Homo sapiens: one gene and its partners. The protein of the gene in region 1 interacts with the protein of each later gene in a biochemical or structural test. Each region holds a gene or a part of one and is shown in the gene's direction. Other genes may lie near its edges. The genes, in order: PPP6C, MAP3K7, TIPRL and ZNRF2.

Region 1 (7,028 bases):
GTACCTGTAATCCCAGCTACTCAGGAGTCTGAGGCAAGAGAATCGCTTGAACCCGGGAGGCGGAGGTTGCAGTGAACCGAGATTGTGCCACTGCACTCCAGCCTGGGTGACAGAGTGATACTGTCTCAAAAAAAGAAAAAAAAGAAAAAAAAATGGTGGTTTTTTTTTTCAGGGAAAGTTTTTGAGAGAATGGCACAGCAGATTCTTGTAGATTTCCCTGGAATCAAAAATCTTGTTTGTATAAACATTTAATAGAAAAAATTTGTTTACGTGTATTTTATTTTTTTGTTAAAATCAAATTTCCAAATAATTCAGTATGTAACTCTTTATTGTAGTTATAAACTATATGTTTGTACAGTTTGATATAATTTGAAAAGAATATTGTGGCTATTGTATTGTTTGTAACTGTAAACTTTTACTTCACAGGGTGATTTTGTAGACAGAGGTTACTATAGTTTGGAGACCTTCACTTACCTTCTTGCATTAAAGGCTAAATGGCCTGATCGTATTACACTTTTGCGAGGAAATCATGAGAGTAGACAGATAACACAGGTCTATGGATTTTATGGTAAGAATTCCTATTTCTCTGATTCTGAATATTATTTTACTTTCCTCTTTGGAAAACAAAGCTACACAAGTCATACACATGCTTTATGTATATTATTTTCCCCACATCCTCACTCCTTCACTCCTCCCAAACAATTGAAAATCTTATGCTCGAGAGAAGACCACTGTTAACTTTTTGGTGTGCATCTTTCTAGATCTGTGCCTCAAAGTGTAGCTGGAATCACCTGGGTTCTCATTAAAAATGTAGATTGCCGGCCGGGTGGGGTGGCTCACACCTGTAATCTCAGCACTTTGGGAGGCTGAGGCAGGCGGATCACAAGATCAGGAGATCGAGACCATCCTGACCAATATGGTGAAACCCCTTCTCTTCTAAAAATACAAAAATGAGCTGAGCGTGGTGGTGTGTGCATGTAATCCCAGTTACTCGGGAGGCTGAGGCAGGAGAATTGCTTGAACCAAGGAGTCAGAGTTTGTGGTGAGCCGAGATCATGCCACAGCACTCCAGCCTGGCGACATAGGGAGACTCCGTCTCAAAAAAAAAAAAACCAAAAAAAAAAGGAGAATGCTGGGCCTCACCACAGATTTATTAATCAAAATATTTTGGAGTGGGAATCTAGAATCTGCTGAAGGTGAATGTTCTGCACAAATTTGAGAGTCCATTCTCATCCATTTTGTATGTGTGTGTGTGTGTTTATGTGTGTTTATATATGTACAAACACGTGCACACTAAAATGGGGACATACCTGATTTTTTCACTTTATTAATGTTATTTTCATGGCTGCTTCATATACCATATGGATGTAGCATAATTGATGTATCAGTTTTTCCTCTATCGTTGGACTTTAGAGTTGTTTTTAAGCTGCTGTTATACATCCTTTTACATATATCTCTGTATGCTCACTCCAGAGAATGCTAGGACCTCAGGGATCAGAAGCAGAACTTAGTCATAAACAGCAAAATAGGCCAGGCGCAGTGGCTCACCCCTGTAATCCCAGCACTTTGGGAGGCCGAGGCGGGCGGATCACCTGAGGTCAGGAGTTCGAGACCAGCCTGGCCAACTAAACCCTGTCTCTACTAAAAATACAAAAATTAGCCGGGCACTGGTAGGGGGAGGGGGGAGGGATAGCGTTAGGAGACATACCTAATGTAAATGACGAGTTAATGGGTGCAGCACACCAACATGACACATGTATACATATGTAAAAGACCGACACGTTGTGCACATGTACCCTAGAACTTAAAGTTTAATAATAAAAAAAATTTAGCCGGGCATGGTGGTGGGGGCCTGTAATCCCAGCTACTCAGGAGACTGAGGCAGGGAGAATTGATTGAACCCAGGAGGTGGAGGTTGCAGTGAGCCAAGATCGCTCCATTCCACTCCAGCCTGGGCAACTGAGCCAGACTCTGTCTCAAGAAAGGAAAAAAAGCAAACTAGCTAATTCTTTAAAACTTTTATTTGGTTGAAAGAGAGAGAGAGAGAGAGAGAGAGAGAGAGAGCGAGCTTATTAGGAAGCCCCTTCAGGGAAATAGAACTGTCAAGATTATGAATTTGGATTTTCCTTGAGCACAATTAAGACAGATATTGAGAGATTTGGAAACATTAATTGCAGAACCCTTTAGATTTAAATTTTATATTTTGAATTATCTTCTTTCATTATAAAGATAGGCTGGGCCAGGTGTGGTGGCTCATGCCTGTAATCCCAGTACTTTGGGAGGCTGAGGCAGGCAGATCACAAGGTCAGGAGATCGAGACCATCTTGGCCAACATGGTGAAACCCCGTCTCTACTTAAAATACAAAAATTAGCTGGGCATGGTGGCACTTGCCTGTAGTCCCAGCTATTCGGGAGGCTGAGGCAGGAGAATCCCTTGAACCCGGGAGGTGGAGGTTGCAGTGAGCCGAGATTGCACCATTGCACTCCAGCCTGGATGACAGTGAGGCTGTCTCAAAACGAAACAAAGCAAAGATAATCTGAACTCTCTTACTCTTCAGTTTGTCTGCCATTATCAATTAGAGAAATTTTGAGAATTTATTGTTTTTATATAATTTTTTTAATACGTGTAAAGTTAGGTAATATTTATCTCCTTTCTACAGGTGACTTTTTATTTTCATTCACAAAATAAACACCAATTGAAATACAACTTTTGGATTCTTTTGCAAAATAATCAATATTTTGGATAACATACTATGATATTAGCTCAGTGAAAACAGTACTAAAACTAATGTTATAAAAACACACACACCTACTATATATATGTAACTAATGCTACATGTATAATATATAAAATACATATTGTTATATATGGCTAATATATGACTTTTTTTTTTTTTTTTTTTTGAGACGGAGTCTCGCTCTGTCACCCAGGCTGGAGTGCAGTGGTGCGATCTTCGCTCACTGCAAGCTCTGCCTACTGGGTTCACGCCATTCTCCTGCCTCCGCCTCCCAAGTAGCTGGGACTACAGGCGCCCGCCACCATGCCCGGCTAATTTTTTTGTATTTTTTAGTAGAGACAGGGTTTCACCGTGTTAGCCAGGATGGTCTCAATCTCCTGACCTTGTGATCCGCCCGCCTCGGCCTCCCAAAGTGCTGGGATTACAGGCATGAGGCACTGCGTCCAGCCATATGACATATGTTTTGAATAAGATAATTTTAGTTATTATAGGACTTATATTGATTTTCAAGGAATAAAATATCCCTATATGACTTTACACTGGGACTTCAGTTCACACTGATAAACACATACTGGGCAGTTACTATTGAGCCAAGTTCAAGATCCCTGCCTGCAACCTGAGCTCATTGTTAGGGCTCTCTTATGGCAAGTTTACATAACAATCTTGCTTCACGTAGATATATAATTGAGAAAATCTTGGGGATTGGTCATAACCTGCAGACTTCTTTCCTATATCATTTTCAGCTTCACTTAAGGCAATAGTGATATGTCAGGTTTTTTTTTTTCTAAAATTATGGAAGAAGCCAAAGTACAGAGCTTCCATGGTGTTAACAAAAGAAGTGTGTACCCTATTAACTATGTAGACAGTCAGGGTACAGTGGCTCACATCTGTATTCTCAGCACTGTGGGAGGCTGAGGTAGGAGGATTGCTTGAGCTCAGGAGTTCAAGACCAGCCTGGACAACATAGGGAGATCCCCATCTCTACCAGAAATAAAATTAGCCAGGTGTGGTGGCACTTGCCTGTAGTTCCAGCTGTTCAGAAGGCTGAGGTGGTGGGATCGCTTGAACCCAAGTGGTTGAGGTTGCAGTGAGCTGTGATCGCGCCACTGCTGATTGTGCCACTGTATTCCAACTTGGGCAATAGAGTGAGACCTTGTCTCAAAAACAAAAAACTACGTAGGCAGCAGAAAGAGTGTTCAACTGAGAATTTGTAAGAACCTGATTGGCAATCTGTCCTCAGTTTTGATCCACTGAAGCTCAAGTGTTTAGTCGCACGATTTGCAGAAAATCTCAGAAGAGACAACTTAGCCCTGAGAAGAGTTAGGAATTGCTCATGCTCCTATAACTAAGGATCCTCTAATTTGTTTGATCTGTTTATCCTGCTAGAATTGTCTCCTTAAATAAATTTATCTGCTTACCAGAATTGCCTAATATTAACATAACTGTTAAAACATTTGCTTCAGGTTGTGTGAAATTAGTATTTAACTCTTCTAATGATAGCATTTTGGCTAATAATTTCAGCTGCTTCTTAGGTCCATTCCAGGAATGAAGAGCAGTACTACATCCTTAGGAAATACAGTCATGTGCCACATAATGACATTTCAGTCGATGATGGACTGTATATATGACAGTGGTCCCATAGATAAAACGGAGCTGAAAAATTCCTATTGCACAAATACTTACCATTGTGTTACTATTTCCTTATGATATTTAGTACAGTTACATGCTGCACAAATTTATAGCCTATGAGCAATAGGCTATATCATATTGCCTAGGTGTGTAGTAGGCTAGACCATCTAGGTTTATGTAAGGACATCCGATGATGTTCACACAACGATGAAATCACCTAACAATGCATTTTTTAGAATGTATCCCCATGGTTAAGGGACATACAACTGTATGTAGTTAGTCACTAGCGTTCTTTTGGCTCTATGTGGAGGTCCTAGCAGGACTAAATATGTGTCATATCTTGCTATCCTAGTTTAAGCTGAATTTCTGTTGTACTGAAGGCTGCTCTAGTATTGGATATATTGTTTATTTTTATTAGCAGATTCATTAATTAAAACCCTTCTGTTTCTTTCACAGATGAGTGCCAAACCAAATATGGAAATGCTAATGCCTGGAGATACTGTACCAAAGTTTTTGACATGCTCACAGTAGCAGCTGTAAGTTTCTATTTTTAAAGTCTCATGTACGTTCCTGCCAATAACACATTGCATATTTTTATCTAGTTGTCATCTCAATTATATTGATATCTTTAGTATTCACTGATGAGTTTAGATATGCCTGAGGTTATATGTTCAACTCTTTGTTATCCTTTTTTGCTAGTTAATAGATGAGCAGATTTTGTGTGTCCATGGTGGTTTATCTCCTGATATCAAAACACTGGATCAAATTCGAACCATCGAACGGAATCAGGAAATTCCTCATAAAGGAGCATTTTGTGATCTGGTTTGGTCAGATCCTGAAGATGTGGATACCTGGGCTATCAGTCCCCGAGGAGCAGGTTGGCTTTTTGGAGCAAAGGTCACAAATGAGGTAAAGCCAACATTTTTGGAAATGTAATTTGTGGATTGCTAATGGGCTGCATAGAGAACTATGGTGGCCCTAGATAACAAACTTGTAGTCTAGCTTACTCAAAATATGGTGGCTGTGGATATTAAATTTCTAGTTTAGTTATTAACGTATGTCTTTCTTTAATGGTTAAATAAGATGACACAGTGAAAGCACCTACTCCAGCATCCATTTGGTAATAATGTATAAAGTAAATGTTCTTTCCTTTTTTTTTTGTTTTTGAGATGGAGTCTTGCTCTGTCGCCTAGGCTGGAGTGCAGTGGCGTGATCTTGGCTCACTGCAACAACCTCTGCCTCCCAGGTTCAAGCCATTCTCCTGCCTCAGCCTCCTGAGTAGCTGGGACCACAGGTGTGCGCCACCATGCCTGGCTAATTTTTGTATTCTTAGTAGAGATGGGATTTCACCGTGTTGGCTAGGCTGGTCTTGAACTCCTGACCTCAGGTGATCCACCCGCCTCAGCCTCCCAAAGTGCTGGGATTATAGGTGTGAGCCACCGCACCCGGCCAGCCCCTTTCCTTTCAAGTACTGTAGTTAAGTAACAAAATGGCAAGACCAAGATAGGCAATACTTTTTTTTTTTTTTCTCAAAGACCTCAAATCACACAGATACAGACACTTTATTAGTTTCCTCTACAAGAGACAATAACATGAATCTTTTTTTTTTTGAGACAAGAGTTTCGCTCATGTTGCCCAGGCTGGAGTACAATGGTGCAATCTCGGCTCACTGCAACCTCTGCCTCCTGGATTCAAGCGATTCTCCTGTCTCAGCCTCCCGAGTAGCTGGGATTACAGGTGTACACCACCACGCCTGGCTAATTTTGTATTTTTAGTAGAGACGGGGTTTCACCATGTTGGTGAGGCTGGTCTTGAACTCCTGACCTCAGGTCATCTGCCCACCTTGGTCTCCCAAGGTGCTGGGATTACAGGCGTGAGCCACCGCGCCCAGCCTACGTCAAATCTTTTTTTTCTTTTTAACAGAAATCTCTGTTCATTTGAAAAGCCAAATAGATCCAAAGAAAGAAGATGAAAATTAAATACTTAAATTAATCAAAAGGCACTATGATACCACCTAAAACCTACTGCCACAGTGGTAGTAGGCTAAGGAAGATCAAGCTACAGCAAATCATGTAATGTGAATGTTAGCGATTACATAGCAGGAAGCACATTTGCTTTCCAGAAGACTACGGTACAGTGTTCATTTGGGCCCAAGAGGATCTTTGGCCAGGAAAGGATCAAGATGGATGAAGGTAAAGCCAAATCAAAGGAGTAGGTACAAAAGAGAATCCAAGCTACATAGTCAAGCAGATGATGATGGATCAGGCTTCTTCCTCCCAAGAAACATTTGCTGCGCTGTGCTGCCTCCCCCCTCAACCACCCCCCACCCCCTACCCCATGGCTGCTCAAGCCCAACTGCCTACTCCTGCCTTACAGGGTGCTCAGCCACCGGGACTAGGTTTGGGGTTGCCCAGGGCTCTTGCCATAATTTAGCATAGACCTTGGGGAGAACTGCTCACACATGGGTTGGCTTTGCTGCTGGTTGTTCTCAACAAAGAAAACCCTGAAGCATTCACATGCAGAGTAGTCTGAGCTTCTCCAGTCACAGTCAAACACCCCCACACAACATCCTCAAAAGTCTGAAATCTTGTAACAGCTGAGCTATAGTTAAAGCTGCAAGGCTCACAGAATCATCAAGGAAGCCAGAATGAGACAATGCAG
Region 2 (7,028 bases), on another chromosome or scaffold:
AATAACACAATCCTTGGACTTTTTTTCTGCTCCCAGAATACCACGCAACACTGATGTATTAAGCTTAATTCTAAAATACATATCAGATACAGGGTGCTGATATAATGAGATATATAATGTATCAGTGATTTAAGAAAGAATAATAGGAATGGAAATCTTAAATTGAAACTTTTTCAAGACACTTAAATTTTTCTAGTAAATCAGGAGGAAATCAGTCATTTTTAATCAGTTTTAGTTTTGTGGAAAGCAGTGTTTATGTGGGAGCGTAGTTTGAAACCACTGTTGGGGTGGGAGAAGAGTTGGTCAGAGAAATAACAAATTAAGTATATTTCTTGTTTAGCCACTTCAGAAAAACACACATTTATGTTAGTACTGTATATGAGCCTTAAGGGTAAGGGTAAGTGCCTTAAGTCTCTACTGTTTTTCTGTATTGCCCTGCAATATTTAATAAACATTACTTTTTCAATATGGAATTCATACTATACTATTTTAAATTGTTCTTTCTAATTCTCCATTTAGTATGAATAATAATGATAACTACCGTCATGTATTGAGTGCTTAATATACGCCAGGATTTGCATGGTGTTCCTCACATGCACTGGCTCATTTGGTCTGATTTCGCTAATTAGCTTTTGGAGTTTCTTGAGAGCACGTTCTCAGTGGCTTTAAAAAAACAAAAACAAAAGCAAAAAGAAAAAAAAACACCTGGATTATCAGTTGACAATAAATTAGAAGATTACTGAGCCAGCAACCCTTCTTGAGTTTTTTTGGATTGCATACAGTGCGTCTGCTGTCTTCCTGACTTGCCTTTATCCACACCACTCCTTCAAGGAGTTATTCGTCAGAAAAAGGCTGAAGAGCTCACTCATTTAGCTCTTTTTTTGTCTACTAACAGTGGGAAAGCAACTACTTCTGAAGTAGAAAAGTCTGTATTGCTTCAGAGTTACTCTGTTTACTTCTGGAACTGTTCTACATAACCATAAATGTTGAGAAGAGACTGTCCCACGCATCTCAGTCAAGTTGTATGGCAGTTTTACCTCTTTTGAAATATAAACAAAAGCATTCTATTCAAATAATTTTATAAAATTGACTGATTGTTTGAATTAATCAACTTAACTGTTTTCGGCATGACATTGAGCCACAGGTTTCAACCTCATTTTGGTTCCTTACTGTTCGTATTTGTAATATACTCTCATCACCAACATCTCGTTTTCTGCAGTGATTCTTACTGGGAAGGGCAGGATGAGTGGTGGAGGTCACATTATAATCTATATAAATTGAAAATGATCCACTGGAAGAGAATGTGTCTCTGCTTTCTCCCTTTCCCTGTTAAGGAACATTGATATTAGCGGAGTTGATATAGCCTTCTATAAAATAAACTTAGCATGATAAAGAAAAGAGATGGGGAGTTTGATTAGATAGGGTCAATTAAGACTGAATTTAAAATATAAAGGTCTCATCACTGTTTTTGTTTTTAATTAAGAGCTTAGAAGCTCTAATATATTGTGTTCTATTCAGTTTATAGCCAACTTAAATTATAGGTATGAGAATATAATTGCATTCTAATATCTGATAATTGAATATCCTTTTTTTAACCTTTAGAATTCAGAAATAGACTCTTCAATTACCAATAGCTGTAACTTTTAATTTACATATTATTTACTTTAGGGAAAAAAAGCATTTCATTCATGCTTTCTTGCTGTTCGTTTATAATTATTTGTGACAGAAAATCAATAAAATACATGCTTGAATTCCAGATACCAATGGATCAGATAACTCCATCCCAATGGCTTATCTTACACTGGATCACCAACTACAGGTAAAGGAGTACTTTCTTATTGAAAGTTGACTTTTTTCTTCTTAGAGAGTTTAAGTTGACAATTGTGTTGCTACCTGTCATTGTATAGTCACTCCTTAATTTATCCTTTTAGTTGGCCTCCTTAAACTTTTTAGAATCAAATCAAAATAATTCTTTTGGTTAAGTTAATCAAACTTTAAATTGGCAGAATCATATTCTTATCTTTTCAGTCATCTTAAAATCCTCCAGTATCTTTCTTTAGTACTGCTAAGCATTACATTTTCACTCTTTAATTTTAGTGCATTAAAACAAAACTCATAAGCTTATTTCTATTTAATACATTTGTGATACATTCTCATGTTCATAGTGACTGAAAATGTAAATAATATACTTCAGTGCCCCCTCATGAGTATGAGGGCTATAAACATCATTTAGTTTGAGCCTGTTTGCAGCCTGAAATGTCATACCAGAGACTACAACTCCAACAATCATGATTCTCTGTAACAGACTGTTAAAACAGCAAGAATAGATTTAAATGCTGAGTTAATTCTGACAAAAGGACACTGAGATTTTCTAGGGCATGGTTTAACACTTATTTTTAAAAGATCATTGCTTTAGTGCTATAAAAATATATCACAGTCTCTGTCTTGACTCTCATCTTAGCTAGATATTGAAATTTGATTTAATTATGTTTTAACATTCCTGATTATTTTCAGCCTCTAGCACCGTGCCCAAACTCCAAAGAATCTATGGCAGTGTTTGAACAGCATTGTAAAATGGCACAAGAATATATGAAAGTTCAAACAGAAATTGCATTGTTATTACAGAGAAAGTAAGTTATTTTTTATGAATAAAAATAAAAATACATTAGTATTTTGAGTTTAAAATATGATAAGGTGCAATGAAAACGTAGTTTTTAGAATTAGTCATTAAGTATACTTTCAACTTGTTTAAGCTTTAAGCACCCTTTTACTAAAAATTTTTTATGCAAAACTCAATCCTTTTGACTATCATATTAGTGCTATGGAAAATAAACTGGTGCTTTATACTTGTTGTTTTATGTTCTCAGAGCTGTTTAGACTTATTATTATAAAGATTTATTGTTTTCTTGTAAATAGATAAAATAATTTGATTTATTAACATTCAGTTGTGCCTTATCTTAGAAACATTTTTGTAGATACATTTTTTCCAGGTGTATGTTTAGAATTGGATTACTTATTAAAAGACTGTATTTCATAACTGAGTGTTTTTCTGAGGAGTTATAGAAACTGCCTTCCTCCCTTTTTAAAGAAACACAGCCTAATTTCCTTACTACTGCATTCACAGTTCTTAAATATGTATGTATCTTCAGTTTTCTTAAGCATGACCTCCATGAAATTTTATACTTAGGTAACTGAATTGTTGGTGGTAACTAAAATGAAGTGATAAGGAAAAAATTTTGGCAACTTTATATATGTATGATAATAGGATTCCCTTCATTAATTTTAATCTAAATAAATGAAAGTTGTTTTTTTCTGAATTTGCGAAAAGCTTTCTGTATGTACTTCAAAAAAAAGAGAGAAAAAATTGTTTTATCATAATTTATTGATACAGTGATTTAAATGGAACCAACCTGGTATTTGAAAGGTAAGCCTAAATAGGAAATTAAATACTACAGTTTGGAAATCGTAGAAGTAATTATCAAACTGCTGGCACTTTTATGTTGAAAAAGCTTGATTTCTTATTTCACTTATTTAACCTATACTTTTGCCATACTTTAATCATTTGAAAGAAGTATTCTATGCTGGAAAAAACAAATGGTGGATTAGGGTGTTGGCTGTGAAAACTATGACAGTTTTAATCAATTTTAAATACTTTCAGAAGTAGTATTAGTTAGTTATTTTGCTTGAGGACTTTTTATTAATTATTCATTTATATCCAGTAACCTCACTTTAGGAAATGCCTAAAGATGCATCTTTTTCGGGAATACTTAATAGTTCCCAAATAAGAGGGACTTAAATAAGTTTATCAGACTATAAAAGAATGAGGGTCTTTCCTGAAAGTGCTTGCAAATGTAAGTGTTTTAAAAGAAGTGGTACTTTGTCATTTTTCTCACTGCTTTAAAATGGGAAAAAGCTTTAAATTGGATAGCATTTATTTTAATTAGATTGCAAATTTGCTATTAGCTTACCACTCTCTGCTATAGTTAAGTAGGATTGTGACTTCAGAATGTGAATCAGTATAAAAGTAGAATGTGAAGGATAAAAACTTCATGATATTTTCCCATAGCCACATAGAACCCTTCCCAGCCTTTTTTCATCCTTCCTACACAAAAAGAGGATAGAAAATGAAATTTTCTGAAACTTTTATTTTACCATTTTATCTGCTTCGCTAATTATCCAAGTACAGTTACTTAATAAAAGGATTATGTTATTTGTATGATTACACTAGAAGTAGATGAGAGTTCCATCCCAGCCCATAATTATATTTGATTAGTGTACCTAAGATGCAAAATGATAAACCAAGAATAAAAATTCTCATTAATTGAGCTTCCATCATCAGCTACTAAGGTATGAATTTTTCCATCATGTGTAATATTATGTGGTATTTGTTTGTAGGCAAGAACTAGTTGCAGAACTGGACCAGGATGAAAAGGACCAGCAAAATACATCTCGCCTGGTACAGGAACATAAAAAGCTTTTAGATGAAAACAAAAGCCTTTCTACTTACTACCAGCAATGCAAAAAACAACTAGAGGTCATCAGAAGTCAGCAGCAGAAACGACAAGGCACTTCATGATTCTCTGGGACCGTTACATTTTGAAATATGCAAAGAAAGACTTTTTTTTTAAGGAAAGGAAAACCTTATAATGACGATTCATGAGTGTTAGCTTTTTGGCGTGTTCTGAATGCCAACTGCCTATATTTGCTGCATTTTTTTCATTGTTTATTTTCCTTTTCTCATGGTGGACATACAATTTTACTGTTTCATTGCATAACATGGTAGCATCTGTGACTTGAATGAGCAGCACTTTGCAACTTCAAAACAGATGCAGTGAACTGTGGCTGTATATGCATGCTCATTGTGTGAAGGCTAGCCTAACAGAACAGGAGGTATCAAACTAGCTGCTATGTGCAAACAGCGTCCATTTTTTCATATTAGAGGTGGAACCTCAAGAATGACTTTATTCTTGTATCTCATCTCAAAATATTAATAATTTTTTTCCCAAAAGATGGTATATACCAAGTTAAAGACAGGGTATTATAAATTTAGAGTGATTGGTGGTATATTACGGAAATACGGAACCTTTAGGGATAGTTCCGTGTAAGGGCTTTGATGCCAGCATCCTTGGATCAGTACTGAACTCAGTTCCATCCGTAAAATATGTAAAGGTAAGTGGCAGCTGCTCTATTTAATGAAAGCAGTTTTACCGGATTTTGTTAGACTAAAATTTGATTGTGATACATTGAACAAAATGGAACTCATTTTTTTTTAAGGAGTAAAGATTTTTAATTCTGTGATTGTGTGTATGTGTGTTGAAACTGTAAAGCTTTTATGACTCTAATATTAATCTCTTAAATGAAATTAAAAGGCAAAAGAACATGATTGAGCTTAAATGATCATTTCTTCCTGCAGTGATTCTTGGATTGTTTTCTCATGTATTTGAAAAAAAAAAAATGAAGAAAAATAATGGAAAATGGAAGTAATTACTCCAGCTAAAAAAAGCTTGGACTTAGATTTCTTTTTATGATACCAAATGAGAAATAAACCAGGCAAATCAGAAGGAAGTTAAAGAAGCAAATATAAATTCAACAAGTGTCCTAATTATCCTGGATATTGGAATATTTGATTTTCCTTACAATCCCGTTCTAGAATGCCTGCCGCCTTTCAACACTTTCAAGAGAATTTCAACACTTACAGAGTATTTATATTGTTAACAGTAATTTTGCTACCAAAACCTTCAGAATAACTTTAATAATAAAATGACACTGAAATAATAGACTATACAAACTCTATATTTTTTCAGTTGGTGTTAAAATAAGTCACATTTTGATACCAGTACAAGATGTCTTTTAAATAAGGATGTCATCAGTCTGATTTTTATAGCATTAATGTTTTATGAAGAAAAAGTTCAAAATGAAAGCATTAATTGCTGTGATTATTAGAATTCTATCATGACTGTATTGTAGTTTTTGCTCTATTTCAGATAAGCAAGATCTAAGAAGTTATCAAAACTATTCTTTAAAATGCTAAAGCAGGTAACTTTTTCTTCCATTATTTTTTCCTCCTACCACTGAGTTTTGTAATGAATTCCTTGTGTATACAAGCAATACAGGTGAATACTAAACTGTTATTTTTAGCTTCTTCAAAAGCTATTTTAGAAAGCTTCCTGGAAATAAATGTCTTCTGTCATTTAATTTAAATAAAAGGAGTGTTAATTGTTCCCAAATTTGATTACCTAGCTGAAACAGATATTGGATTCAGCATAGTAATAGTAAAATAAAATTGGCAGAGAAAATAACTGTAGACTAGGATAAAGCATGACTCCTCCATAGCATTGTTGCTTGTATGTACATCTGTCACTCCACTGAAAGGGACCTAGTCACTTTAAAGAGGCCTTTTATCTCAGCACGAGATATCCAAGCGTGAATGCTAAGGCTTGATGTTTCCATTAGGATTTAGCATTCGAGATTTCAGATTTTATTTATAGTCATTGATGTGTTTTGCTGTATTATAACACATTTAAGGGAAATTTTATTATGGTTTTTACATGTAGTCATTTCATAAAAATATCCAGATAGGTAAATGGAAGAAAATAGTAGATTTTAGTCATGGTACCAAATGCAAGAGGCTGTTGAACAGTTGCTTGTTTGTTTACAGTAAGTTCCTTGAGATTTTCAGTACTGTAGTTGCCCTGGACATTGAGTACAGTTCAGCCTTACTCTGTTTTTAAGTAGTTGTGTTGTCAATTTCATGCTTTTAAGTCCTGATGATCCTTGGAGATGGGAGAAAAAGATACCAGGGATAATTAAAATCCACAGCCAGTTTCATCAGTTTCCTCATCCATCCTGCAAATAAAAATGTTAACAAGGAGCCAAACTTATTCGTTCTGGTTTTACAATTTATTTTGACCGTTTTTTGGGTGAAAATTGCAAACAGCCAAGCAAGTGGCTGGAATGCCCCAGTCTAAGAAATTCAAAAACAATCACTGAGTAAGCCCTAATTACATTAATTACATTTTACTCTTGAC
Region 3 (7,266 bases), on another chromosome or scaffold:
ACAGTATGGAGATTCCTTAAAAAACTAAAAATGGGCTGGGTGTGGTAAATCATGTCTGTAACCCCATCACTTTGGGAGGCTGAGGCAGGAGGATCACTGGAGCCCAGGAGTTCGAGACCAGCCTGGGCAACATAGCGAGATCTCATCTCTACAACAAATAATAATAATAATAAAATTAGCTGGGTACAGTGGTGCCTGTAGTCCCAGCTACTAGGGAAGCTGAAGTGGGAGGATTGCGGGAGCCAAGGGAGTCAAGGCTGCAGAGAGCTATGACCATGCCTCTGCACTTCAGCCTGGGCAATAGAGCTAGACCCTGTCTGTTAAAAAAAAAACAAAACAAAACCCAAAAAACCTAAAAATAGAAGTACCCTATGATCCAGCAGTCCTACTGCTAGGAATATACTCAAAAGAAAGGAAATCAGTATATTGAAGAGATACCTGCACTCCCGTGTTTGCTGCAGCACTATTCACAATAGCCAAGATTTGGAAGCAACTGGAGTGTACACTAACAGACGAATGGATAAAGAAAATGTAGTGCAGGCTGGGCGTGGTGGCTCACGCCTGTAATCCCAGTACTTTGGGAGGCCGAGGCAGGTGGATCACGAGGTCAGGAGCTTGAGACCAGCCTGGCCAAGATGGTGAAACCCCGTCTCTACTAAAAATACAAAAATTAGCTGGGCATGGTGGCATGAACCTGTAATCCCAGCTACTCGGGAGGCTGAGGCAGGAGAATCGCTTGAACCCAGGAGGCGGAGGTTGCAGTGAGCTGAGATTGCGCCACTGCACCACTCCAGCCTGGGCGACAGAGCTAGACTCTGTCTCAAAAAAAAAAAAAAAAAAGAAAGAAAATGTGGTACATACATGCAATGAAGGACTATTTGGCCACAAAAAAGAATGAGATCCTGTCATTTGCAACAACATGGATGGAACTGGAGGACACTATGTTAAGTGAAATAAGCCAGGCACAGAAAAACAAACTTTTCATGTTCTCTCTCATTTATGGGAGCTAAAAATTAAAACAATTGAACTCATGGAGATAGAGAGTAAAATGATGGTTACCAGAGGCTAGGAAGGGTAGTGGAGAGGGGCAGAAATGGTTAATGGGTACAAAAATATAGTTAGACAGAATGAATAAAATCTAGTATTTGATAGCACAATAGGGTGACTACAGGCAACAATAACTTATTGTACACATGTAATCCCAGCACTCTGGGAGGCCGAGGCGGGTGGATCACAAGGTCAGGAGTTCGATACCAGCCTGACCAACATGGTGAAACCCTGTCTCTACTAAAAATACAAAAGTTAGCCGGCCATGGTGGTGCGTGCCTGTAATCCCAGCTACTCAGGAGGCTGAGGCAGGAGAATCGCTTGAACCCAGGAGGCAGAGGTTGCAGTGAGCTGAGATCGCACCATTGCACTCCAGCCTGGGTAACAGAGCGAGACTCCATCTCAAAAAAAAAAAATTACTAAAAGATTATAACTGGAATGTTTGCAACACAAAAATATAATAAATGTCTAAGGTGATGGATATCCCATTTGCCCTGATGTGATTGTTACACATTGCATGCCTCTATCAAAATATCTCATATACCCCATAAATATGTCTATTATGTACCATAAAAATTAAAAATAAAAAAATTTTTAAATAAAAAGAAATTTTAGATAGAAAACAAAACCTAATCTTGGCCAAAGGAACCTCAGAAAAACCTTAAAAACTGAATTCCAGGCCAAGATGGGAAGAGAGGTTAGACACACCTCTATACCTTCTCCCTTTTAAAGTTTAGGCACAACTGACCAACATTAAGGTTAAACTAGAGATCATAAGACTGACAAAACACTCTGTGGCAATAAGATACCATATTATAAACAAGACCTAGGCTGGGCGCAGTGGCTCACGCCTGTAATCCCAGCACTTTGGGAGGCTGAGGCAGGCGGATCACGAGGTCAGGAGCTCGAGACCAGCTTGGCCAATATGGTGAAACCCCATCTCTACTAAAAATACAAAAATTAGCTGGCCGAGATGGCGCGTGCCTGTAGTCCCAGCTACTTGGGAGGCTGAGGCAGAAGAATCGCTTGAACTGGGGAGGTGGAGGTTGCAGTGAGCTGAGATCACGTCACTACACTCCAGCCTGGGTGACAGAGCGAGACTCCGTCTCAAAAAAAAAAATAAATACAAATAAACAAGACCTGCGAGCCAGGCGCGGTGGCTCACGCCTGTAATCCCAGCACTTTGGGAGGCCGAGGCAGGTGGATCATGAGGTCAGGAGTTCAAGACCAGCCTGACCAACATGATGAAACCCCGTCTCTACTAAAAATACAAACATTAGCCGGGCATGGTGTTGCATGCCTGAAATCCCAGCTACTTGGGAGGCTGAGGCAGGAGAATCGCTTGAACCTAGGAGGTGGAAGTTGCAGTGAACCGAGATGGGGCCTCTGCACTCCAGCCTGGGCGACAGAGCAAGACTCTGTCTCAAAACAAAACAAAACAAAACAAAACAAAAAAACTATGGCCATGCAAGGCAAGGATTAAGTCATGCCCTACAAACCATAAAATGTCGTTAAATGGTTTTTTATGTGCAATGGTATAATGTGCCTTACTTTCCAACCTGACTGGTGTAGAATCACATGACAGATAGCAGACTCCCTTTTCTTAAGCATTCCTTTCTACTGACTTCAAGTCTTTAGACAAAGCTTAACACTGTTTTTTGTTTGTTTGTTTGTTTGTTTTTGAGACAAGGTCTTACTCTGTCACCCAGGCTGGAGTGCAGTGGCACGATCTCGGCTCACTGCAACCTCTGCCTCTCAGGTTCAAGTGATTCTCCCACCTCAGCCTCCCTAGTAGCTGGGGTTACAGGCATCCACCACCGTGCTTGGCTAAGTTTTGTATTTTTAGTAGACACAGGTTTTCACAATATTGGCCAGGCTGGTCTTGAACTCCCGACCTCAGGTGGTCCACCCACCTTGGCCTCCCAAAGTGCTGGGATTACAGTCTTGAGCCACTGCACCTGGCCTGTGTTTTTATTTGTTTTTGAGACAGGGTCTCGCTCACCCAGGCATGAGTGCTGTGGCATGATCATGGCTCAATGCAGCCTCTGAGGCTCAAGAGATCCTCCCACCACAGCCTCTCAAGTGGCCTGGGACTACAGGCAGATACCATCATACACAGCTAATTAACACGGTTTGTAGAGATGAGGGCTTACTCTGGTGCCCACGCTGGTCTCAAATTCCTGGACTCAAGCAATCCTCTCACCTAGGCCTCCCAAGATGCTGGGATTATAGGCAGGAGCCACCTCGCCTGACTAAAGCTTAAATCTTTCAACAGATTGCCGATCAGAAAATCTTTGAATCCACCTATGATCTGTAAGCCTCTCCTTCAAGACATCCCACTTCCTTAGCCTGAACCAATGTATATCTTCCATATATTGACTTATTTTACCTGCAATTCCCAACTCCCTAAAATGTATAAAACAAAGAGTAATGCCACCGCTTCAGATGCTCTTTGTTAGGACCTCTTGGGACTATTCCCTGGGCCATGGTCACTCATATTGGTTCAGAATAAATCTCTTTAAAACCTTTTACAGAATTTGTTTTTTTTCCATTAACAAAATCATCTCATTTTGAGGCAACTGAAGCCTAAAATCGTTAGAGAAGCGCTTTGCCCAAGGATTCACACAATAGTGTTGCAAATGGAGATTTAGCACTAAGTCAGCTGTGTTGTTTTCACTATACTGGGTGCCTACATAGCAACTAGACCATGGAAAGTCTTCGCATATCTACGAGGATGCAATTTTTGATAGGAGTTGGTCATAGTCAAGAGTGGCTAGATGGCCACTTCTAAATCTTGTTGGTGCTGGATTTCCTAAACTCTGTGGGATTACTTCTTTTTTTGACCTCAAAACAGAAAAATTTCCTCTGTAACACGATTCACTAACACATGAGGTAATCACACTGCTTTGAGGTCTGTAAGGATCAAGTTGGAACCGTCATCCCCTTCCCTGGCAGTCCCTAAAATCCTTCGAGATGACGTCACCCAACGAGTTCAAGAGGGCGGTGCGTTCCTAACCACACCTTCTGCAACCCAAGTGCCGCCCCTCTGACTTTCTCCTTTTTCCTTTTTTCCGGAACGCCGGAACGTAAGACGTGGGTCACGCAACAAGAGCAACTAGTCCCGGAAGCAAAAAGCAAAGAGGCGGAGAAGAAGACGGGAAGCAGAGCCCGCGTCCGGGTCGGCCGGCAGGGGGCGGGGCCGGGCATGGTAACGGCTCGGAAGCCTAGGAGGCTGGGCCGGAGGGAGGCGGAGGAACCGGTGTTCGCCGCCGCCGCTGCTTCAGCTTATTCCTTGTGGCCTCTGCGGGTCCTGCCTCAGCCATGATGATCCACGGCTTCCAGAGCAGCCACCGGGATTTCTGCTTCGGGCCCTGGAAGCTGACGGCGTCCAAGACCCACATCATGAAGTCGGCGGATGTGGAGAAGTGAGGCTTCGGGGCACGGGGTCTGGGCGCTGGCCGGTTGCTGGCCCAGGGCGGGAGGCAGGGCGAACTCTGTGCAGCCCCTCCCCTTTTCCCTGAGGCGGAGGTTCGGTCCCTCCGGACCGGACCTTTGATTGACAACTTCGATAAATAATCCAGTCACACTTCCGGGCCCTTTGGTTGGGGATCGCCAGGCGCTGCTTTCGTCAACTGTCAATCCGCCTGGGTTTGAGTAGAGTGTGACTGTTCTGGTGGACTTTCCCCTCACCAAACGTCTCCTCCTGCCTCAGCCTGCACCACCTTTCTTTCTGGGTGGCTGTTGCCTGTTTTCTTAGGGGTTAATGACGGGGATGATTTATAAGTTTGGTTTCTGTCACGTCAGGTGCTGTGCCCGGCGCTTGAGATAGGAAATGTAAAAGACAACGTGCGCCTCAATTCACAGTCTCGTGAGAGAGACAGACAATTATATTACAGCGTGAATAAATGTAATGAAGATGTATACACGGAGTGATGTGAGGTCTTTTAGGGGCTCGAACCATCTGGGAAATTGGGATGCCTGAACTGAATCTTTATAAAACCGTTGCGGGGGGCGGTGGATAGGTACATGCCATCAGGTCAGGCAGAGTGAGTTGTGATGCGTTTTTGATGCCTGGGCTGAATCTTGACAAAATTTAGGGGAATCAGGGGACGCATGTAAAGCTGGGGGCTCAGGGAGAGTGAAAGCTGTGATGTGTTTAAAGAGCTGTGTCCGTGTGATTGGAGCGTGAGGTACCATAGGGGGTGTTGTGAGAGATGAGAGGTAGGCCCCAGGGGAATCAAGATACTGAGGGAATTTTTATGCCTGGCTAAGGAGTTTTCAATTTTATCTGACAACCACTGGGTGTAATTTTATCCAAAGGAGCTGCATTATCAGATGTACGCTCTGAAAGATTTCTCTGGAGGCCATGTTGAGGCTGGATTGCAGGTCCGCAGGGATGGGAAGGAGACCAGTTAGTAAGAGAAAAGATAGGTTTTAGAAGATTAAGTCCCTGGGATGGCCAGCTGATGGGAGGAGAAATAAAAAAGGAAGAGTCTATGCTGATGACAAGATCTCTGGCTTGGATTTTTGCATGTATCGTATGCCTTTGAACAAGATGAGAAGCACAGGAGGAGGAGAAGCAGATGGGGGCAGGGTGTTGGTTAGAGGATGAGTTTAGTTTATTGAAATGTGAGGTGGGTATAGGTCATAAAGTGAAGATGTGTAGTAGGCATTTAGATATATTTATCTTGGAGCTCAAAAAAGATAACGTCTGTGGGTTTAAGTTTGGGAATTATCTGCTTATATTTGGTACCTGGAGCTTTGGGAATGAATTAAGGTATCTAGAAGTCATCCAGAGGAAAAGGTCATAAAATAGAACCCTAAGTGAGTACTTGCATTTTAAGATTTGAGCAGAGGGAGTGACCAGGGAAGAGAGGAAAGTAATGAAACGATGTTTGCTTCCTAATTCAAGAAAATAAGTGGTAATATTCTAGTAGACTCACTGAAAAAAATTAGGAAAATACAGAAAAGAAAGGAAAAAAATTTCCCTTCATCCCACCAGAAATTGAATTACTTTTTTGAGTTTTTCCTCTCTATATCTTTCTTTTCTTTTTTTTTTATAACTTTTTTTTTTTTTTTGTATTTTTAGTAGAGACGGAGTTTCTGCATTTTGCTCAGGCTGGTCTCGAACTCCTGACCTCAGGTGATCTGTCCGCCTTGGCCCCCCAAAGTGCCGGGATTACAGGCATGAGCCACTGCGCCCAGCCTTGTATAACTTTTATTTATTTTTTATTTTGTTTTTTTGAGACAGAGACTCACTCTGTCGCCCAGGCTGGAGTGCAGTGGCACAGTCTCAGCTCACTGCAGCCTCCGCCTTCCAGGTTCAAGTGATTCTCCTGCCTTAGACTCCCTGGTAGCTGAGACTACAGGCGCGTGCCACCACGCCTGGCTAATTTTTGTATTTTTATTTATTTATTTATTTTTAATTTTCTTTTCTTTTCTTTTTTTCTTATTCTTTCTTTCTATTTTTATTTTGAGATGGAGTTTCACTTGTTGCCCAGGCTGGAGTGCAATGGCGCCATCTCGGCTCACTGTAACCTCCACCTCCTGGGTTCAAGCGATTCTCCTGCCCAGCCTCCCAAGTAGCTGGGATTACAGGCATGCATCACCACGCCCAGCTAATTTTGTATTTTTAGTAGAGATGGGGTTTCACCATGTTGGTCAGGCTGGTCTTGAGCTCCTGACCTCAGATGATCCACCTGCCCTCGGCCTCCCAAAGTGCTGGGATTACAGGCATAAGCCACCGCACCCGGCCTCCTCTCCATATAACTTTCTGTGACAAATTGCCGATTGGTGCAAAAGTAATTGCGGTTTTTAATTGCAAAACCGCAATTACTTTTGCACCAACATAATACAATATATAATTATATTATATATAAAGCAGTCAGCTTCAAACTGGGGCCCCCATGTAATTTACTTACAGATTCTCTAAGCGATGGCTGTATACATGGAGAGTTTTAAGGGAATAAAATTCCATATCTACGATCTCCTTATGTATTATTTTAAAAACAAATTTGCCTGAGGCCGGGTGCGGTGACTCACTCCTGTAATCCCAGCACTTTGGGAGGCTGAGGCAGGCGGATCACCTGAGGTCAGGAGTTCAAGACCTGCCTGGACAACATGGTGTAACCCCGCCTCTACTAGAAATACAAAAAAAATTATCTGGGGGTGGTGGTGCAGGCCTGTAATCCCAGCTACTCTGAAGGCTGAGGCACGAGA
Region 4 (7,028 bases), on another chromosome or scaffold:
TTTTGACCTTTCTGCTTAAGCTCTTTACTGCTGGCCAATATAGTCTCTCACTGTTTCTTAATCATATTTCCAAAAAAAAAAAAAATTGATTGGCCTATGCCATCTTTTTGTTCCACTTCTGATTTGTGCCTAGCCAAACTATAAGTTGGCTATCTGGGTTCAGGTTTCCAAACAGCTTAGTGGTGTCAGGGGAGGGAGCAGTAGGACAGCAGGGGAACATGGTATATCTGAGGACTGTCTTAGCAGCAAGAAGGCAGGGATGGGACACTTCACCTTGGTAAGTGAGGGGGCAGAACAGAGCTGAATACATCAAATAGTCCCTATTTTATTATGCTAGTTTATTTTTAATGGAGTACTTCAGGCAAATACTTAGTAGTGCAGATTGAATAATGTAGGAAACTAGCTAATTTTTAAGTGTCAAAAATTGACTGCAAAAACCTGTACCCCGATCTGATGCTAGTTTCTGTTTTCATTATGACTTCAGTGCCATGGTGTGGCAGAAAGACCATTAAAGTAGAAGTCAGGAGTCTTAGATTCTAGACCTGTTTTTGCTGTTCTGAAAGGCTTCACGTTCTGCATCAGATAAAATTTTAAGGTTATTGAGGTAGAATAGTGTCTAAGGTGCTGTTTAGCTATAAAACTTGTGACTCACAGTGTACTATACCAAGTTGGTAAAGGTAATTTCCACAAGAGTAGTCAGATTACAAAGCTTGTAATAACATGAAATCATGAGTACAGGTTAATGTAAAAAATTAAAAACGAGAATACCTGGACCAGTACATCAGAGAGAGATACAGGAGTTTGTAGTGGACTGCATCCCTCTCATTTTAACTTGTTTTGTTTGATGAGGAGATCATCTTCATAAACTGATACAAAAGTCAGATATTATAATCACAAAATTTTCCTGACTTGAGTTGCACATAAACAGTGTAATGCAGTAAGTGTAATATTGAAGTTTCAAACGCTTTTTGATTTTCCATGCTTTTTAAAAGCCATAGCTGGATATTCAGAATAGTTAAGTAACTTGAGTTTCTTTTGTTTTTTAGGATTTAAGTGCCCTGTATGCTCAAAATTTGTATCCTCAGATGAAATGGATTTGCATCTTGTAATGTGTTTAACAAAGCCACGAATAACCTATAATGGTAAGTCCAATGGTTTAAAATAATATTTTAAGTTAGAATTAACTTACATTTTATGAATTTCATGTTTCAAGTATAATTTAAAAGGAGGGAAGGACATTGTTTTCTCTATTTTTACTAGTGCATTAATGCAGTGGTTCTCAAATTCTGTGATCTCAAGACTTCTTTACACTTCAAAAAATTACTGAGGACTTCAAAGAGTTTTTCTTTACTTGGGTTATATCTATCCATATTTGTCATAAATTAAAACAGAATTTATAATTTTTAATTTATTTTGTTAAACATAAATATAATTATGTTGACAACTTTTAAATGAAAAGTAAATTTTCTAAGACAAAATATTTAGTGACAAGAGTGGCATTTTCAGGATTTTTACAAACTCTTTAATATCAGGCTTCATGACAAGGAATTCTCACATCTGCTTCTTCATTCAGTTTATTGTGATATGGCACGTCTTGTGTCCTCTGGAAAACTCTGCTGCTATACTGGAGAGAATGGGAATGAAAAAGGCAGATATGGCCAGGCACAGTGGCTCACACCTGTAATCCCAGCACTTTGGGAGGCCGAGGTAGGCAGATCACCTGAGATCCCAAGTTTGAGACCAGCCTGGCCAACATGGTGAAACCCCATCTCTACTAAAAGAAAAAAAAAAAGAAAAAAAAAAATTAGCTGGGTGTGGTGGTGCACACCTGAAATCCTAGCTACTCGGGAGGCTGAGGCAGGAGAATCGCTTGAACCCAGGAGGCGAAAGTTGTAGTGAGCCGAGATTGTGCCACTGCACTCCAGCCTTGGAGACAGAGTGAGACTCTGTCTCAAAAAAAAAAAGAAAAAAAAACAAAAACAAACAAACAAAAAAACAGATACTTAGTGTTACCATGAAAATAGTTTTTACTTTGTTAATCTAAAAGGATTTCAAAGGCTCTTCCACTTCTCCTACTGTACAAGATTCTTTGGACCACAGTTTGAGAACTGCTGCATTGAAATAAAATCTTTTGGGTTAAGCCTAAGTAAAATGTAATGTTCATAATGGCCATTTTCAAAAGTAAGTAAGCATGGTTGAAATTGCAACTTTTTTCTTTTTGTTTAAGAGTATAGAGTAAATGAAGGGAACATATATGAGGAGTAGGGAGAATAAAAGTTTATTCAATAGTAAATAGATGCCTAATGGGAGAAAAAAGTCATTAAGAGAAACCCAAAACTCTACCTATGCAGTGCATATGTGTCTCTGTCTTTCCTCCCATATACAAATTTAGTCTGTGAGCTCTGGAGCGAACTGGTATTTTTTTAGGTCTGGTGTTTTAGACTGTACCATTCTTTCCTGACCAAAATCTCTAGATATTCCAAAACCTAGGAAAGATTTTAAATGTAGCCTTGGCATACTTTGGAATAGACTTGGGGGGGAAAAATCAAGTAGTTCTGTCCTAACCAATGAATAGAATAAAATGAAGGAAAAATGAAAGTTGTTTTCAAAATTTTATAAAGAAACAGACTTCAAAAGCTTAAGAGAAATTTCATTTTTTTTAAATATAAATTTTGGCCTGAAATAAAATGTGTAGAAAGGGTACCAGTAAACACTATAGCCAATTGAAAGATTGGCTAAATTCAACATATATTTTGAGCATCAATTATGTGCGAGGTACTGTGTTAGGAATTAGAGATATAGCAGTGAATGAACAGAAATGGAGCTTACAGCCTACTAATAGTAATAGTCACTGATTTCTTTGAGCTAAGAATTATTGGTTAAATAAAAAGGTTCTATGAAAAACTTAGTAGATATAGCAGCACTTATCTGAGCTTTCTCCTCAGGTAACAAAAATGTTGGGAGGGGTAGAATTTAACATTGAAATGAGCATATTACTTTTGGTAGTGTTTTGCAAGTTGATCTAAGAATCAGTCTCTCAATTCTTCCCTTTCCTTCACTTTTTCTAGTATGGTGGTGCTTCAGCCACCCTATTACAGGGTTGACAATAGAGCACTTTTTGCCATTCATTTGCTGATGAAATGTGAAAGTGGTTTTAAGCAGTTACTTGGCATAATAAATGTATTTGTTGATTATATCCTAACCTTTTTGCATTATGAAATTGAATTGGCTACTTTGCATTATCTACTTCAAGTTTAGTTATTTAAGAAATAGAAAGTGTTCTCATTCAAAATTTGTGACTAAAAGTATATGGGTTTGTTTTTCATACCTGCTCCACTATCTTATATTCTATAATTGTTTATGTTTAATATGAGTGCCTTTAAATATCCATAAATCTTAAAGCTTCTGGCTTTCAATTTGAAAATCACAAATATATTTGACCATATAATAATATATTTACACACAGTCTTAGTATTCTGTATGTTTACTTTTTGTGTAATATATCTAGAATACAGTCTTCTTGTGTATTGTGATATTTAACAATTTTTTTAACTTTTAAGTTGAGGGGTACATGTGCAGGTTTGTTATATAGGTAAACTTGTGTCATGGGGGTTTGTTCTACAGATATTTTGTTACTCAGGTATTAAGCCTAGTACTCATTAGTTATTTTTTCTGATCCTCTCCTTCCTCCTACTCTCCACCCTCTGGTAGGCTCCAATGTGTATTGTTCCCCTCTTTGTGTCCATGTGCTCTCATCATTTAGCTCCCACTTACAAGTGAGAACGTGCGGAATTTGCTTTTCTGTTCCTGTGTGAGTTTGCTGAGGATAATGGCCTCCAGCTCCATCCATGTTTCCACAGAGGACATGATCTTCTTTTTTATGGCTGTGTAGTATTCACACGGTATATATGGACCCACATTTTCTTTATCCAGTCTATCATTTGATGGGCATTTAGGTTGATTCCATGTCTTTGCTCTTGTGAACAGTGCTGCAGTGAACATATGCATGCATGTGTCTTATAACACAAGGATTTATATTCCTTTAGGTGTATACCCAGTAGTGGGATTGATGGGTCAAATGGTATTTCTGTTTTTAGGTCTTTGAGGAATTGCCATACTGTCTTCCACAATGGTTGAACTAATTTACACTCCCACCAACAGTGTGTTAAGTGTTCCTTTTTCTCTGCAGCCTCTCCAACATGTATTTTTTTTTGACTTTTTAATAATACGCATTCTGACGCTTGAAATGGTATCTCCTTGTGGTTTTGATTTGCATTTCTCTAATGATCAGTGATGTTGAGCTTTTTTTCATATGATTCTTGGCCACATTTATGTCTTCTTTTGAAAAGTGTTCATCTCCTTTGCACATTTTTTCATGGGGTTGTTTGCTTTTTTCTTGTAAATTTGTTTAAGTTCCTTATATATGCTGGATATTAAACCTTTGTCAGATGCTTCGTTTGCAAAAATTTTCTCCCATTCTGTAGGTTGTCTGTTCACTTTGTTGATAGTTTCCTTTGCTGTGCAGAAGCTCTTTAGTTTAATTAGATCCCATTTGTCAATTTTTGGTTTTGTTGCAATTGCTTTTGGTGCCTTTGTCATGAAATCTTTGCCTGTTCTTATGTCTATAATGGTATTGCATAAGTTGTCTTCCAGGGTTTTTATAGTTTTGGATTTTACATTTAAGTCTTTAATTCATCTGGACTTAATTTTTGTATGTGGTTTAAGGAGGTTGGCGTGGGGTAGGGGTCCAGTTTCAATCTTCTGCATATGGCTAGCTAGTTATCCCAGCACCATTTATTGAATAGGGAATCCTTTCCCCATTGCTTGTTTTTGGTCAGGTTTGGATATTTGACAGTTCTTAATTTCCTGATTTAACTATGCCTAAGTCATTAAACTGTTCTGCTAGATCACTTGTTTGGTGTCTTAAGAACTAATATATAACCTTCTGCTTGGGGATACTATAACAACCAAATATTTCGAATTTTAAATATTTAACAGTATTTCAATCTAGAAATTAATAAATTTCATGCAATAAGTAAATAAACTTGTAGGCATTCTTAAAGTTGCTGACTGAAAGCTTTAAAAAATAAAAATATATATATTTTTGTTTTTAGAGTCAGGATCTTGCTGTGTTGCCCGGGCTGGAGCTCAGTGGCTATCTATAGGCACAGTCATGGCACACGACAGCCTCAAACTCCTGGGCACAAGTGATCCTCCTACCTCAGCCTCCTAAGTAGCTAGGACTACAGGTGCATGCCACCATGCCTGGCTTTTATTTTTTATTTTGTAGAGATAAAAAATTCAAAGTATGTATTAATTGTATAAACATTCACAGCAAGAAGCAAATACAGCTTCTTAATAAAAACCGTGTATAGTTTTTGAGGTTTTAAAACTAGCTCTTGGACAGTGGCCAGTTATGAGTAAGTGAAGGAGAAAGGAGCTTTGCCTGGACTGATTTGGAGGGTTACAGAGAGGTGGCAGGTTAATAATGTACTTTCCTATCATAGGCAAGGGGAATTCTAATGCCACCTGGTTTTAAAGTCAGACCCCCCCCAAAATGTCTGTCACAGGTGATGAGTCCAAATGGAAATTGGCTCCTTTAATACCTCATAAGCAAACCATCTAGGATTATTATAAAGTAGAACAAGGTAAAGCCAGAGAATCTCTAAAACTGAATCTTTTTAGTCAACTGGATTCCTCACAATTTTATATTTGAATTCCTACATGTTGATTCCATAGAGAGATACATCAGATACATTGGGCCTCTGAATTGTGTTAGTGCTCAAACAAGAACATTTTTTTCAGCATACTGTTCATTTAACTTACACTTTTGCAGCCTTTTCCAAAGTAGCTAGATCTGAAATTTTGAAATTTATTTGTTAAGTGAATGTTAACTGTCTATAAACATTCATAGTTATAACACAAGAATAGTGGGGCTTGTTTTCTTCAGACTGGATATATTTATATAGATAAGCTCCTGAATTGGATGAGTTCCAGAAATTCAAATATAAGTTGATGATTTAGAGTTTCAGACTCTTTGTCACAGAGATGATATTTGAAATATTGGTTTTTCAGACTAGCTCACCAAAACCTTCTTATTTTTTTAAATGCACAATATATCTGAACACCCACATCCTGGTACCTGAAGAAGAAATTGGCTGACTAGGTAGAAACTCTCAGGGATTGGGCAGCTGGCTCGGCAGAGATCCCAATGGGACGCCCAAGGCTGTCAGGGCAGGGAAGGATTTTGAATGATGTGGGTGGTATTATCTATTGCAGATGGTATTTTGGCAGCTTGAAAAAATTAAGAATGCCACAGTGAGTATTCAACAACATAGATTACCTTCATGTGAAGGACTGCCTGTTTCATATACTTTTCCCTCTTTCATGTGCTTCATTGTTGAGTTTATGGACCTAATAATTCCTTGTATAGTCTATGAATCTAATACAAATTTTATGAGTATAGAGGCTCTCTTCATTTCCTTGCTCCTTCTAGGATATTTCAGACAAGCCAACAAATTAAATATTATTAGCAAATTCTTAGTTTTTTTAAAAAATTTTATTATGTGTACATAATAGTACATTTATAGGGGTCCATGTGATATTCAGATACAAATGTACAATGTGTAATGATCAAATCAGGATAATTGGGACATCCATCACTTCAAGCATTTATAATTTCTTTGTATTAGGTACATACCAGTTCTGCTTTTCTAGTTATTTTGAAATACACAATAAATTATTGTTAACTATAGTTGTCCTGTTGTGCTTCCAAGCACTAGGTCTTATTCCTTTTATCTGAAGGTATTTTTGTACCCATTAATCAAACCCTCTTTATATCCCCCTTCCCCAGTACCCTTCCCAGCCTCTGGTAACCATCATTCTTCTCTCTGTCTCCATGAGATCAGTTTTGTTTTGTTTTGTTTTTTAAGCTCCCACATAATGAGTGAAAATATGCTATAGTTGTCTTTCTGTGCCTGGCTTATTTCACTTAACATAATGTCCTCCAGTTCCATCCATGTTGTTGA

The links.
Region 2: of the proteins of PPP6C (region 1) and MAP3K7, one has a biochemical effect on the other in vitro, tested with the Homo sapiens proteins (one study listed by IntAct).
Region 3: the proteins of PPP6C (region 1) and TIPRL form a complex in vitro, tested with the Homo sapiens proteins (one study listed by BioGRID).
Region 4: of the proteins of PPP6C (region 1) and ZNRF2, one has a biochemical effect on the other in vitro, tested with the Homo sapiens proteins (one study listed by BioGRID).

What each region holds. Positions count from the first base shown.
Region 1 is NC_000009.12:125,151,781-125,158,808, reverse strand, and holds part of PPP6C (serine/threonine-protein phosphatase 6 catalytic subunit), read left to right. Parts: intron 1-426; coding exon 427-568; intron 569-4,823; coding exon 4,824-4,903; intron 4,904-5,066; coding exon 5,067-5,276; intron 5,277-7,028.
Region 2 is NC_000006.12:90,514,049-90,521,076, reverse strand, and holds part of MAP3K7 (mitogen-activated protein kinase kinase kinase 7), read left to right. Parts: intron 1-1,757; coding exon 1,758-1,819; intron 1,820-2,514; coding exon 2,515-2,630; intron 2,631-4,395; coding exon 4,396-4,576; 3' UTR 4,577-7,028. UniProt on the Homo sapiens protein: Serine/threonine kinase which acts as an essential component of the MAP kinase signal transduction pathway. Plays an important role in the cascades of cellular responses evoked by changes in the environment.
Region 3 is NC_000001.11:168,174,710-168,181,975, forward strand, and holds the start of TIPRL (TIP41-like protein), read left to right. Parts: upstream 1-4,252; 5' UTR 4,253-4,368; coding exon 4,369-4,472; intron 4,473-7,266. UniProt on the Homo sapiens protein: May be a allosteric regulator of serine/threonine-protein phosphatase 2A (PP2A). Isoform 1 inhibits catalytic activity of the PP2A(D) core complex in vitro. The PP2A(C):TIPRL complex does not show phosphatase activity.
Region 4 is NC_000007.14:30,322,596-30,329,623, forward strand, and holds part of ZNRF2 (E3 ubiquitin-protein ligase ZNRF2), read left to right. Parts: intron 1-1,046; coding exon 1,047-1,142; intron 1,143-7,028. UniProt on the Homo sapiens protein: E3 ubiquitin-protein ligase that plays a role in the establishment and maintenance of neuronal transmission and plasticity. Ubiquitinates the Na(+)/K(+) ATPase alpha-1 subunit/ATP1A1 and thereby influences its endocytosis and/or degradation.